Homo sapiens: one gene and its partners. The protein of the gene in region 2 purifies or fractionates together with the protein of the main gene of each other region. This does not show direct contact. Each region holds a gene or a part of one and is shown on either strand. Other genes may lie near its edges.

Region 1 (3,651 bases), on a different chromosome or scaffold from region 2:
TTTTCTTTTCTTTTCTTTTTTTTTTTTTTTGAGATGGGAGTCTCACTGCAACCTGTGCCTCCTGGGTTCAAGCGATTCTCCAGCCTCCCGAGTAGCTGGGATTATAGGTGTGCGTCATCACACCCGGCTACTTTTTGTATTTTTAGTAGAGAAGGAGTTTCACCATTTGGCCAAGGCTAATCTTGAACTTCTGACCTCAGGTGATCTGCCTGCCTCAGCCTCCCAAAGTGTTGTGATTACAGGCATGAGCCACTGCACCCAGCCTGGAAAGGCCTTTTCTAAAAAGGAACAAGGGCACTGGCCTTGGACTGACTTTTCCCAGATGTAATCTAAATGAAACTACGAATCACTTCTGAATTTTGACTCTCCAAAACTGAAGGAGAAGCAAGAGATTAATATATTAAATAGATTCTTTGCTACACTAACATAGAAAGTATTAAATTAGGACATCTTATGGACTCATGTTAATGTAAAAACATAAGTGCACTAACTAAATATAACAAACATAAAACTTTAGACTCCATGCCACACAGTCTATTAGTAGATGTTGCTTGTGTGAAGCATAAAATTACCACCTGTTTAGTTCTTTTAGGCAACAGATGCAATCAAATAATAATCTAAGCACATAGTTAATATTTTCAATTATCACATAAATCATCTCAATAATGTCTCCATCACTATAAACACTGCATGTTTTTTCTTATCCTGCACTATTTAAGTTCCCAATAGAAGTACCATGACAGTAGACTTAATTTTTTCATACCAAGATACCCAGCAACACTTTTCAAAAGATCAAATTCCTTCATGTTCCTGCACAAATTTAAATTAATTTTTATATTGTTAATACACTTCAAAAATATATTTCCATAACATTTTTGTTGAGCACAGTAGAAAGTACCATTTTAAAATACATTTTTCCTAAAAAGAAAAAAAAAAAACCAATAAAACAAAGTCACGAATAAAAGCCCTGGATTTATAAATGTGCCCTTTGAGCACATCTACGCAGCATTCTCACTTCTGCTGCTCACTCAACTAGCATTCTCCCCTCTGCTGAGGCTTTGAAGAATTTAACACAGTAATTGCTTTAAAACAATGGCTTTCATCAGATGTGTCCAAACCGACTGGCAACACTGGTAATGTTTTGAGGATGATGGTGGCCCCCATCCCTAGTGGAGCTTTCTAAAGGAATATGCACAGGCAGCTGGAAAACGTTCCTCATCTGACCTCCCCCGAAAAGATCCTGGCCTCTCTCCTTTCCTGCTACTCCCTCTACAACACAGCTTTAGATAATCTATACCTTGAGAAACAAAAGGAAAGAAGATGTGGAAAGCAGAAATACTTCAGGGGAGCTGATGCAGTCTGGACTTTCACACAGGGCTGTCCTTAACTTCTGCCCCTTCCTGCAACTTCACTTCCTTCACCTTCCATGGGGTCTTATAGTAAGGGGCTTAGCGCTCTAGAAAGGCACTGGGAGTCTTGTCGGGGAGCATCAGGAGATGAGAACAGAAGAGAAAGGAGGTAAACTATGCTAAAACTTGCCTCCTAGCTGCCCTGAAAAGAATGAAGGACACTGTTTCTAAGACATGGGGCCCCTGCTCACAAGTCAGAACCTTGGTATCACCTCACAGTTCAGCTATTTTGCCACAGCCATAACGCCATCACCAAGAACAGCTCTGCTGCTGTAACAAACACTTTCAGAAACTAAAGTGAACCATTTTTAAGTTGGGATTTGTCAGAGTTAGCATTTCATTCACTGATTTCTGGGAAGCGACGAGTAAGTAATAAGATGAATAAAGATAATGACCCCGGACTGACATTTAAATTAAACTTTCCTTCATGATTAAAGTCCTAATTTAAAAACAAAATGAAATTTCTATTCCATTTAGACAAAAAAATACTCCTCAGTGAAGGAAGGTCCTATAAACAAATTAATCTAAATGAGATTGTTTAATAGTTAATTCTAGATTAATTTATTCTCATATTACTCTAGACCGGTTTAAATTGTATTTCAGAATCTGCAGTCTTCATGAAGAAAAAATTTAATTCAGTCTCAGATAGGATAGATTCATCAGTCATTTCTATTTTGATTCCTTGACATATTAAATGGATCTTGGGTGTTTTCTGTTACTGGGAAGCTTTGGACAAATTTCAATTAAGATATCTGCAGACTTACAATCTCCTAGAGATGTTTATCTTAAATATTATTGAGACAGAATTTTATTAATGAAAAAAATTGTTTACTAAAAGTAAACTGAGATAAAGTAAAAAAACAAAAGGAAATCCCAATAGGATTTTAGCTTTCTGAGGTTCAACTATTTGTGCTTCAGGTCATATGTGAAACGATAACAAGGTAAATATTCTAATAATGACACTATTTGTCAAGAACCTGTCAGTTTTCATGGGTGAGTGTTTATGCATCTTTGTCATTTATCCTAATATTCTTATTTTTCCTTGAGAGAGATATTATAATCCAACCAAGTAACAGATGAAGGAAACTGTTCCCTTTCATGTTGCTGAGCCAGGGTTCAACCAATAAAAGCACAGTGCATGATAAATTTGGGCATTACACTTTCAAAAAACAGCAGATCTTTTAATATCTAATTCAGTGTGCCTACTGTCTAGTAAATGTTAATATTCTATTGTGTGGCCTGGTGTGTCTACAGCTTATACCAAAAAATTAACAAGCTATCCCCCAAATTACTTTCCAGTTCCAAATGTGGATTCAAAGTATAGTTAAACACACAGCAATAGTTTTTAAAGACATACCTACGTCCTCGTACTAGTAGTCTGGAGGCTTTTCCTAGTAATTCAACTGCCTGTCGTAAGCGTTCTTCATTCTGAAGGAATCAAAGAAAAACAAGTGTTGGCTGCTTTAATGTTGAAATGTTTTTATCCCCTAATATTTATTTTGTAAAGAAGTAATGGCACTGGATCAAGGGGGGAACACGAAAGCTGCTAGTTCATTTCACTACTCTCTAACAGAAAAGAAATAGCGTGCAACTGTGAGCAGGGAAAAGTTTTAAAAGTAGCCACTGCACTTCTCTATTTTCCTATATATTATTAATCTAAACATTCTAAGTAATTAAAGAAAAAAATAAGATTCAAACTTACTTCAAACACATTAGCTGTCTGTTGATATAACTGTACAGCCTTCTCTGGATCAACATTTTCTATAAGCCTGAATCAGACAAGAAAACATGTCTTATATGAGAAATGGAAAACTTGTTTTTCAGGGACCTCTTTAAAACAAAAAGACAAGACTTCTATGCAGAGACTTGTCCATCTCACACTCACTTTCCAGCTCGCTCCAAAGCCATGGCTGCTGTGTCTGGGGTGCCGTTTTCTAGATACATCATGCTGGCCTTCTCAATTAGCTGAACGGCCTCTGGTAGTTTCTGCATCTCCTTTGGGCAAAGGATACAGTAGACAGGTCAGCAAATGCATCAATTAAAGAAAAACAGAGTTAACAATCTGAAATGCAATTATTTTTTATTTTAAGTTCTGGGACACATGTGCAGAATGTGCAGGTTTGTTACATAGGTATACATGTCCCATGGTGGTTTGCTATACCTATCAACCCATCATCTAGGTTTTAAGCCCCGCATGCATTAGGTATTTGTCCTAGTGCTCTCCCTCCCCTTATTCCCCAGC
Region 2 (3,651 bases):
AGGGAAAAAAGGACTCCCTGATTCATGCCCTCCCTGGAATATCAGCCTCACCTGCAATGGGGGGCCCAGCAATCATTGGCAGGGCCATCATGCCCAGGAGGTAGCCAATGGCCTGTGAGGCCTGCATTGGGCCCACCAGCTCAAATGCAATGGGGGCCATGATGGTGATGAAGAAGCCATCGCAAAGGCCCAGGAAAAGACAGACGACGATAAGGCCCCCGAAGTCCCGGCACAGGGGAATCATCATGGACATCAGGCCCAGGAGCAGGAAGGAAAGGACCTGGAGAAACAAGGGCCTGAGGTCAGGTTGTGCTGGCCAGCCAAGACCACATAGCATCACATCTCCTTTCTCAAGTCTTCATTTCTACCATCTATAAAATGGGGTGGTGGGAGGGGGAAGGTGTCAACAGAGAGAGCAGTTGGGCTGAATGGTTAGGCCCTTTCAAAGTCTTGCACTGAGGGATTCAAAGTCCAAGAAAGCCCCTACTTAACTGTGATTCTGTTGGGATTAAAAAAAGAAAGTTGGGGGATACTTGGCCCCTGGCCTCAAGAAGTTTGTCTTGCACTAGACCCTAAGATAAAAGGAATTGTTGTTTCTGCTTTCTGAGCCTGTATTTGGCTTCCCCAGGGATCAGGGTCTGGGATCAGGCCATACCGGTGTTCTCAGATCCAAGTAAAATATGGAAAGAGGGAAGGGAGGACATGAGGATGGCTTGCATGATGATCAGATGGGGTTGTAAGTGGAAGGCACAGCTTCTTGAAATGGGGAAGGAGCCAGAGCCCATTTTTGTGGGGGCTGATTTTATAAAATACCTTGGCATAAAGGAAACCATTGGGACATTCACCCAGGTTCCTATGCTTTAGGACATGGACTGCACTGCCTATCTCAGACATCTCAGACACATGGCTCTGGGGGCCTCTGGGCTTGGCTGGACACCCTGAGAAGGCAACAGAGGAGCCTTCCAGGGGAACCAAGCCACTGGGAAGGTGTATGTCTAGGGAGAATGAAGCCAACCCAGGAACACTGACTAGCCACTGGGCTTTCTCTGGGCTAAGCAAAATGACTCCAAAATGAAGAAACTGCCTTTCCAGAGGTTGTTTTTTTTTTCCTTCTCCACAGAGAAAAGGGCTGCTGCAAACACAGCTGGTCTTCATTTGCAACCTGTGTTGGCCAGCTAGACTGAAGACCTGGGCTTCAGGCAGAGAAAGGAACCCTGCCCCCATCCCGCTGCTGCCAACCCCCTGCAGCCAGTAGAGCCAGGTCAGAGCCAGGTCATCCCAGGGTCAGGGCTAAGATCTGATCTCTCTATCAAGGCCTTAATAGGCCCAAGGATTTTCCAGTAGTTCACACAAGCAAGCCAACTTAGCCAAGAACACATGGAAGGAGTGGGGGTCAAGGTTATTTGGTGCCCTAAAGATTTTCTATGTTGTTGCTGGCAGTGAGTTTTTTAGGTTGATCAGTTGATTTTTGGAGAGGATAATGCCATCTGAGGACATCTTTTTGTTGGGAGACTTTGAACTTTGCCCAGGCAGTTTTGAGGTAGCTAGGCAGAAGCTAGGAATAAGAACCCCGGTACCTGAGCTTCTCCTCTAAGAGATTCACACACAACTATGGGATAAAACCAGACACACCTATCAACAAAGCCCATTATGGAAATTAAAAGTTAATACCATTATATAACACAAAGGACCCTATTAACTGATTTTAATCAGGTCTAAGTATTACCTATTGTATCTAGCTGTCTGTTAAACATCCTCCATGAGGCTTTGCCAAGGTTCAGAAATTTAAAATCTCTCTTGGACGTGAGAAACAGGCCTCAAGATTCAGAAATTTAAAATCCCTCTTGGACGTGAGAAACAGGCCTCAAGAATTGGCACAAAGTGAGGCTGTCCTGCAGCCTGTCGCTATTTCCTTTCCAGCAGACTGTCCAGGGGCTTGAAGCCAGAGATATGTGCTTGTCTTTACCAACATTAAGAGCCACAGAGTCTAGTGGATAGCTCTTCAGAACCTGAAGGTGTGTACACTCGTTTCCTCCCCTAGGCCTGTACTCCTGCATTACATGCAGGGAGAAAGGGGGGCAAATTCCTGTGATGGAGTATCTTAACAAACTCAAGAGAAAGAAGTTCATCCATTGTCTTGTGCTCTTGGCCCAAGACACTCAATTTGTAAAATGAGGAAGTTCAACTACTAGTTGATGAAGATATGTTTCAGCTATAATGTTCTAAGATTATTTTATATTATTCTAAGTAAAACTCGGTGAAGTAAGAGTAAGGAAAAGGGGCAGGAGCAGTGGGTGGGTGGTCAGCAGAGGCACTGGGTCCTAAGCCTATCTTGGCCTCTAACTGGCTAATGCCTCCCTGTCCCTTGGACTCCCACTGTATAACAGAAAGCAAAAGCTGCTCAGACTCTACCTTTCTCCTAGGGACTGTAGTAAGAATCACATGAGTTATACGACTAGGCAGGGGCTGCTGCCTCTTCTCAAGATAAAGCCCTGGCCCAATGCCAGATTACCCTGATTTCCAGAACTCTTTGGCATCTTGGAGCTGCTAATACTGGCAGGGAAGACTCACAGGGGTGTCATGTGGGTGAGGCTGGGAAAGCCACACATATTCCTATGCAAATAGCCACCCAGATAAAGCACTTGCTGATATTTGCACAGGAATTCAAAATCTCAATTGGTTTATCTCAATCACAAGATTATCTCTTGGTTTGACCTTGGTCAAGTCACTTATCATCTCTGAGACTTGGCTCTGCCATCACTTAGGGCAAGGTAGAATATGAGAAGTGTGTTGCATAGGAGTTCAGCTCTGCTACTACTGTCTGTGTGAGCCTTTCCCTCTGTTTCTCCACCACTGTAATGAGGTTGGATTGGATGGACCTTAAAAGCAACCCTGCCTCTGACAAAGCAGATTTACCAACTCTTGTAATCTAACACCAAAAAAGTTAAGGAAAAGTTAATCATATTTCCATCCAAGATATTTGAGGGTACTTAGGAGGGCACTTGGGGCTATCAGAGACAGAGAAATCACCACTGTAAGTGTAGCTAGGGCCCCTTGCATGTGCTTTTAGGGCTTTCCCAGGAGATAAATGAGTCAGAACTCAATCACCTTCCTGATGGATTACTTGTGACTACTTGATTTTGGGGGCTATCTTTGCCCCTTCACAGGGCTCTGCACTTGGGTACCACTTCATAAACCCACCTGCAGGATCATAAGTCAGGTAAGAAAGGCAATACTGCTGCCAGGTAGATAAAGACTGACAGCCTGAACAGTGGCCTGTATTCAGACCAGACCAGAGCCTAGTTCACACAGAAAATAGTCTTGGAGCATGGAGAGCCATTATTAATAAAATCTTCCTTTACACGTGTTCTAATAGGTTCCATATACACTGCTCTCACAGAATCCTCACTCAATCTTGGTAAAAGAGGCAGAACAAGGATGATTTTCTTTGTTTAAAAGCAGGTGAAATGGAGGCTCAGAGAATTTGATTGACTTTCCCATGCGACACAACAAGCTACCATTCTATCCCAAAGGCTGTGGATAACCTTGCATTTGTGGCAGGCTGTTTCTCCCCACAGTGGACAAGTGGTCACACTCACCTGCAAGTAGATCTTCTTAAGTCCAGGGATGGAGTCACTGATGTGGCCTGAC
Region 3 (3,651 bases), on a different chromosome or scaffold from region 2:
CCGGGGAGCCCTACCTGTACGGGAGAGGGCAGCACGCGCCCTCCGTGTCCCCCATGTCCCTCCGTGTCCCCCATGTCCCTCCGTGTCCCTGTGTCCCGGGGAGCCCTACCTGTACGGGAGAGGGCAGCATGCACCGTCCGTGTCCCCCATGTCCCTCCGTGTCCCCCATGTCCCTCCGTGTCCCTCCGTGTCCCCGTGTCCCGGGGAGCCCTACCTGTACGGGAGAGGGCAGCACGCACCCTCCGTGTCCCCCATGTCCCTCTGTGTCCCTCCGTGTCCCTCCGTGTCCCCCATGTCCCTCCGTGTCCCCCGTGTCCCTCCGTGTCCCTCCGTGTCCCTCCGTGTCCCCCATGTCCCCCATGTCCCCGTGTCCCGGGGAGCCCTACCTGTACGGGAGAGGGCAGCATGCACACTCCGTGTCCCCCGTGTCCCTCCGTGTCCCCCATGTCCCCGTGTCCCGGGGAGCCCTACCTGTACGGGAGAGGGCAGCATGCACACTCCGTGTCCCCCGTGTCCCTCCGTGTCCCCCATGTCCCCGTGTCCCGGGGAGCCCTACCTGTACGGGAGAGGGCAGCATGCACACTCCGTGTCCCCCGTGTCCCTCCGTGTCCCCCGTGTCCCCGTGTCCCGGGGAGCCCTACCTGTACGGGAGAGGGCAGCATGCACACTCCGTGTCCCCCATGTCCCTCCGTGTCCCCGTGTCCCTCCGTGTCCCCGTGTCCCGGGGAGCCCTACCTGTATGGGTCGTGGATGATGCCCCTGTAGATCCACTTCTCCAGAACCTCGAAGTAGGGAGCACTGGCCGCCTTGGTTAGGTACAGGCATAGCTCCTGCGCCTGGCTGTCCCCTGTGTAGCTGAAGCTCCTGTCGTGGAGCAGGCTCAGCGTGGACCCCCCAAGACATTCGCCTTTGTCCACCGAGGTGGCTGTGGGGAGAAAGGAGGGCTCACTGCTGAGAAGGAAGCGCACGCCCAGCCTCTGCCAACAACACTGCTGGGGCCCCTCATGCTTCTCCAACCTTCTTCCTGGGACGGTGCTGCTTCTTTGGGATACGTATTAACTGTAAGGTTGTAGTTGCTGATTTCAGCTGACCAGTAAGAGCTTCCAGGGCTTTCCTCTTGCAAGTTAATAGCACATGGAGCAACATGAGCTTTGGCCACACGCCCCTGCCCTGGGCAGCTGCTCCACGGCCCCTGCAGAGTCTCTCCTCACACTGGGTGCCATGTTCAACACCTGCCACCCACCACTGCCCCATGCCCCCCGGGCGGGCACGCACCGAGGGAGGCCAGGATGTCCATGGTGCGCATGGCTGGCTGGATGTAGAACCAGAGCTTCTGCAGCGAAAGGAGGCCCTGCCTGTGCAGCTGCTCCAGCTGTGACACCAGAATCAGGTGCTCCTTCACCAGGGTGCGCATGGCGGCCGCCAGGGCGTGGTTCACCTGCCCGTACTCGAAGGAAGACTTCTCTTCAATGAACCTGGAAGAAAAGCTGTCAGACTTCCTCAAAAAGGCAAGCTGCAGGCACATACAATGTCCGATATTCTGAGTCTCATCCCAAACAGGAAGCAAATGACTCACTTGAACCCCACATCCCAGAGGGGAACTTTTGCCCCAGGAGGAGATGAGTCAGGACCCTGGATGGTGACTCACAGACCCTCCAAAACTGAGTTGGGCACGGAGTTGTCACCAAGGCGGGCGCTCTCTTTAGAAGCGATGCAGACGTCCCCATGGTCATCAGGATGGGACCTAACCCCTCCCCCACAACAGCGCAGGCTCCCAGGGACCGCGCCCGGTGCCCACCTGGTCACAGCGGAGTAGCTGGCGGCCACTGGGAGGATCCTGTGCACCAGCTCCCTGATGGACAGGTCCAGGTTGGGGTCCACGAGGAAGGTCCGGCTCTGCCTCCCAGCCAGGGGCTGAGCACTGACGTACCTCCCGTCCACGCCCACCAGCACGTACAGCAGGTCCTCCACCACGGCCGACTCCTGCGAGGCCAGGGGCAACGTGCCTGCGGGCACAGACAGCGCTGTGGCTCTGCAGCCCCCACTCCCATGCCCCCACAGCCACGTGCCCTCATCTGCGGGTCAGTCTCACTCTTGCTCATCTTTGTTTATGGGTATAAAAGGTCAGCCACTGCACTTGGCTTTGACTGACCCCACTGGGGAGCCACAGGCTGAGTTCCAACCGCCGCAGGACGGGGCCGGCCTGGGAGGCGTGGTGGCTGGTGTCAAGATCTCACCACACTCGGCTCCGCAATGCTCAGATACATGGCTGACATTTGAAAAGGTGAAGTTAGGAGTTGAAAAGGCGACTCCAGCAGAAGCTGCACTTTCAACATTGGTAAGTACAACTTGGTAAGTCTGAGTTACTCTGGGACAAAAAACCTTGTCTTTAAAAAGCTATCACTTAAACGTTAAGAAACTCTTGATAATTTCTATCCAGAGAGGATGAGACGGCTGCAGGACACACAGCTAAGCTTCCTCACGAGGACGGCCACGGGCCGCCACCCACCAAACCCCTCAGGTCCCAGGACCAAGTTCTCAGTCCACAGCCTCAGGCGGGCCATGCCTGGGGGGCCGGGAGGAGCACCAGACGAAAGCAGGATGTTGAAACTGTCCCCACGAGGGCCTGACAGGGCCCCGTGCCAGCCAGACCATACCCAAACCAGGCCCTGGCAGCTCAGGAAGGCTCCGTACAACAGGCTTTCGGTTTACAAAATCACTCTGTCAGCCTCACACATCTGCTGGGAAGTGTCCTGTGACTGCAGGCCTCAAGACTACAATCCGTCACCAACGCAAGCCCTTCAGCGAAAGCCTCAATCCTGATGCAGATCCACACTGTCCTTGTTTTTTTTTTTTCCTTTTTTTATTTTTGAGACAAATCTCACTCTGTCACCCAGTCTGGAGGGCAGTGGTGCAATCTCAGCTCACTGCAGCCTTGAGCACCCAGGCTCAAGCGATCCTGTATCCTTAGTCTCCCTCGGAGCTGGGACCACTGGCACGTGCCACCATTCCTGGCTAATTTTTAAATTTTTTGTAAAGGTGGGGTCTTGCCGTGTTGCCCAGGCTGGCAGATCTACACTTTTCAACTTCAAATTCCATTTCTTTCTATTACTCCAGTGGCCTTCTCAGGATGACCAATAAAACCGAGACCCCAATGTCTACCATCCCTAAAGGAGTGGGTGTGGCTTGGCGTTTTGGGAACAGCGAGTGCATCTTCCAGGAACTGCCTCTGACTCTGCATCACTTACTTTCCACCATGTTGGCCTCATTCATCCACAGCCACGAAGCCTCGGCCAATGCCCTTGTGGGGAGAAGCCTCACGGTGGGGTGGAGGTGCCGTGGGGTGGGGGTTAGTGTGGATCCAGCCGCCTGGCTGTGGAGGGACCTCAAGGGTTGCTTTAGGCCGGGTATGGTGGCTCACACCTGTAATCCCATCACTTTAGGAGGCCAAGGTGGACAGATCGCTTGACTCCAGGAGTTCAAGACCAGCCTGGGCAACACGGCGAATCCCCGTCTCTACTGAAAATACAGAAATTAGCTGCGTGTGATGGTGCACACCTGCAGTCCCAGCTACTCGGGAGGCTGAGGTGGGAGAATCACCTGAGCTTGGGAGGTCGAGGCTGCAGTGAGCTGAGATTGTGCCACTGCACT

What was found.
Region 1: the proteins of SLC16A2 (region 2) and NAPG purify together in Homo sapiens (affinity purification with mass spectrometry; one large-scale study listed by BioGRID and IntAct). This does not show direct contact.
Region 3: the proteins of SLC16A2 (region 2) and TUBGCP2 purify together in Homo sapiens (affinity purification with mass spectrometry; one large-scale study listed by BioGRID and IntAct). This does not show direct contact.

The regions. Positions count from the first base shown.
Region 1 is NC_000018.10:10,539,515-10,543,165, reverse strand, and holds part of NAPG (gamma-soluble NSF attachment protein), read right to left. Parts: intron 3,405-3,651; coding exon 3,295-3,404; intron 3,179-3,294; coding exon 3,112-3,178; intron 2,838-3,111; coding exon 2,767-2,837; intron 1-2,766. UniProt on the Homo sapiens protein: Required for vesicular transport between the endoplasmic reticulum and the Golgi apparatus.
Region 2 is NC_000023.11:74,525,842-74,529,492, reverse strand, and holds part of SLC16A2 (monocarboxylate transporter 8), read right to left. Parts: coding exon 3,600-3,651; intron 281-3,599; coding exon 52-280; intron 1-51. UniProt on the Homo sapiens protein: Specific thyroid hormone transmembrane transporter, that mediates both uptake and efflux of thyroid hormones across the cell membrane independently of pH or a Na(+) gradient.
Region 3 is NC_000010.11:133,291,764-133,295,414, forward strand, and holds part of TUBGCP2 (gamma-tubulin complex component 2), read right to left. Parts: intron 2,007-3,651; coding exon 1,799-2,006; intron 1,476-1,798; coding exon 1,276-1,475; intron 926-1,275; coding exon 736-925; intron 285-735; exon of another isoform or gene 1-284. UniProt on the Homo sapiens protein: Component of the gamma-tubulin ring complex (gTuRC) which mediates microtubule nucleation.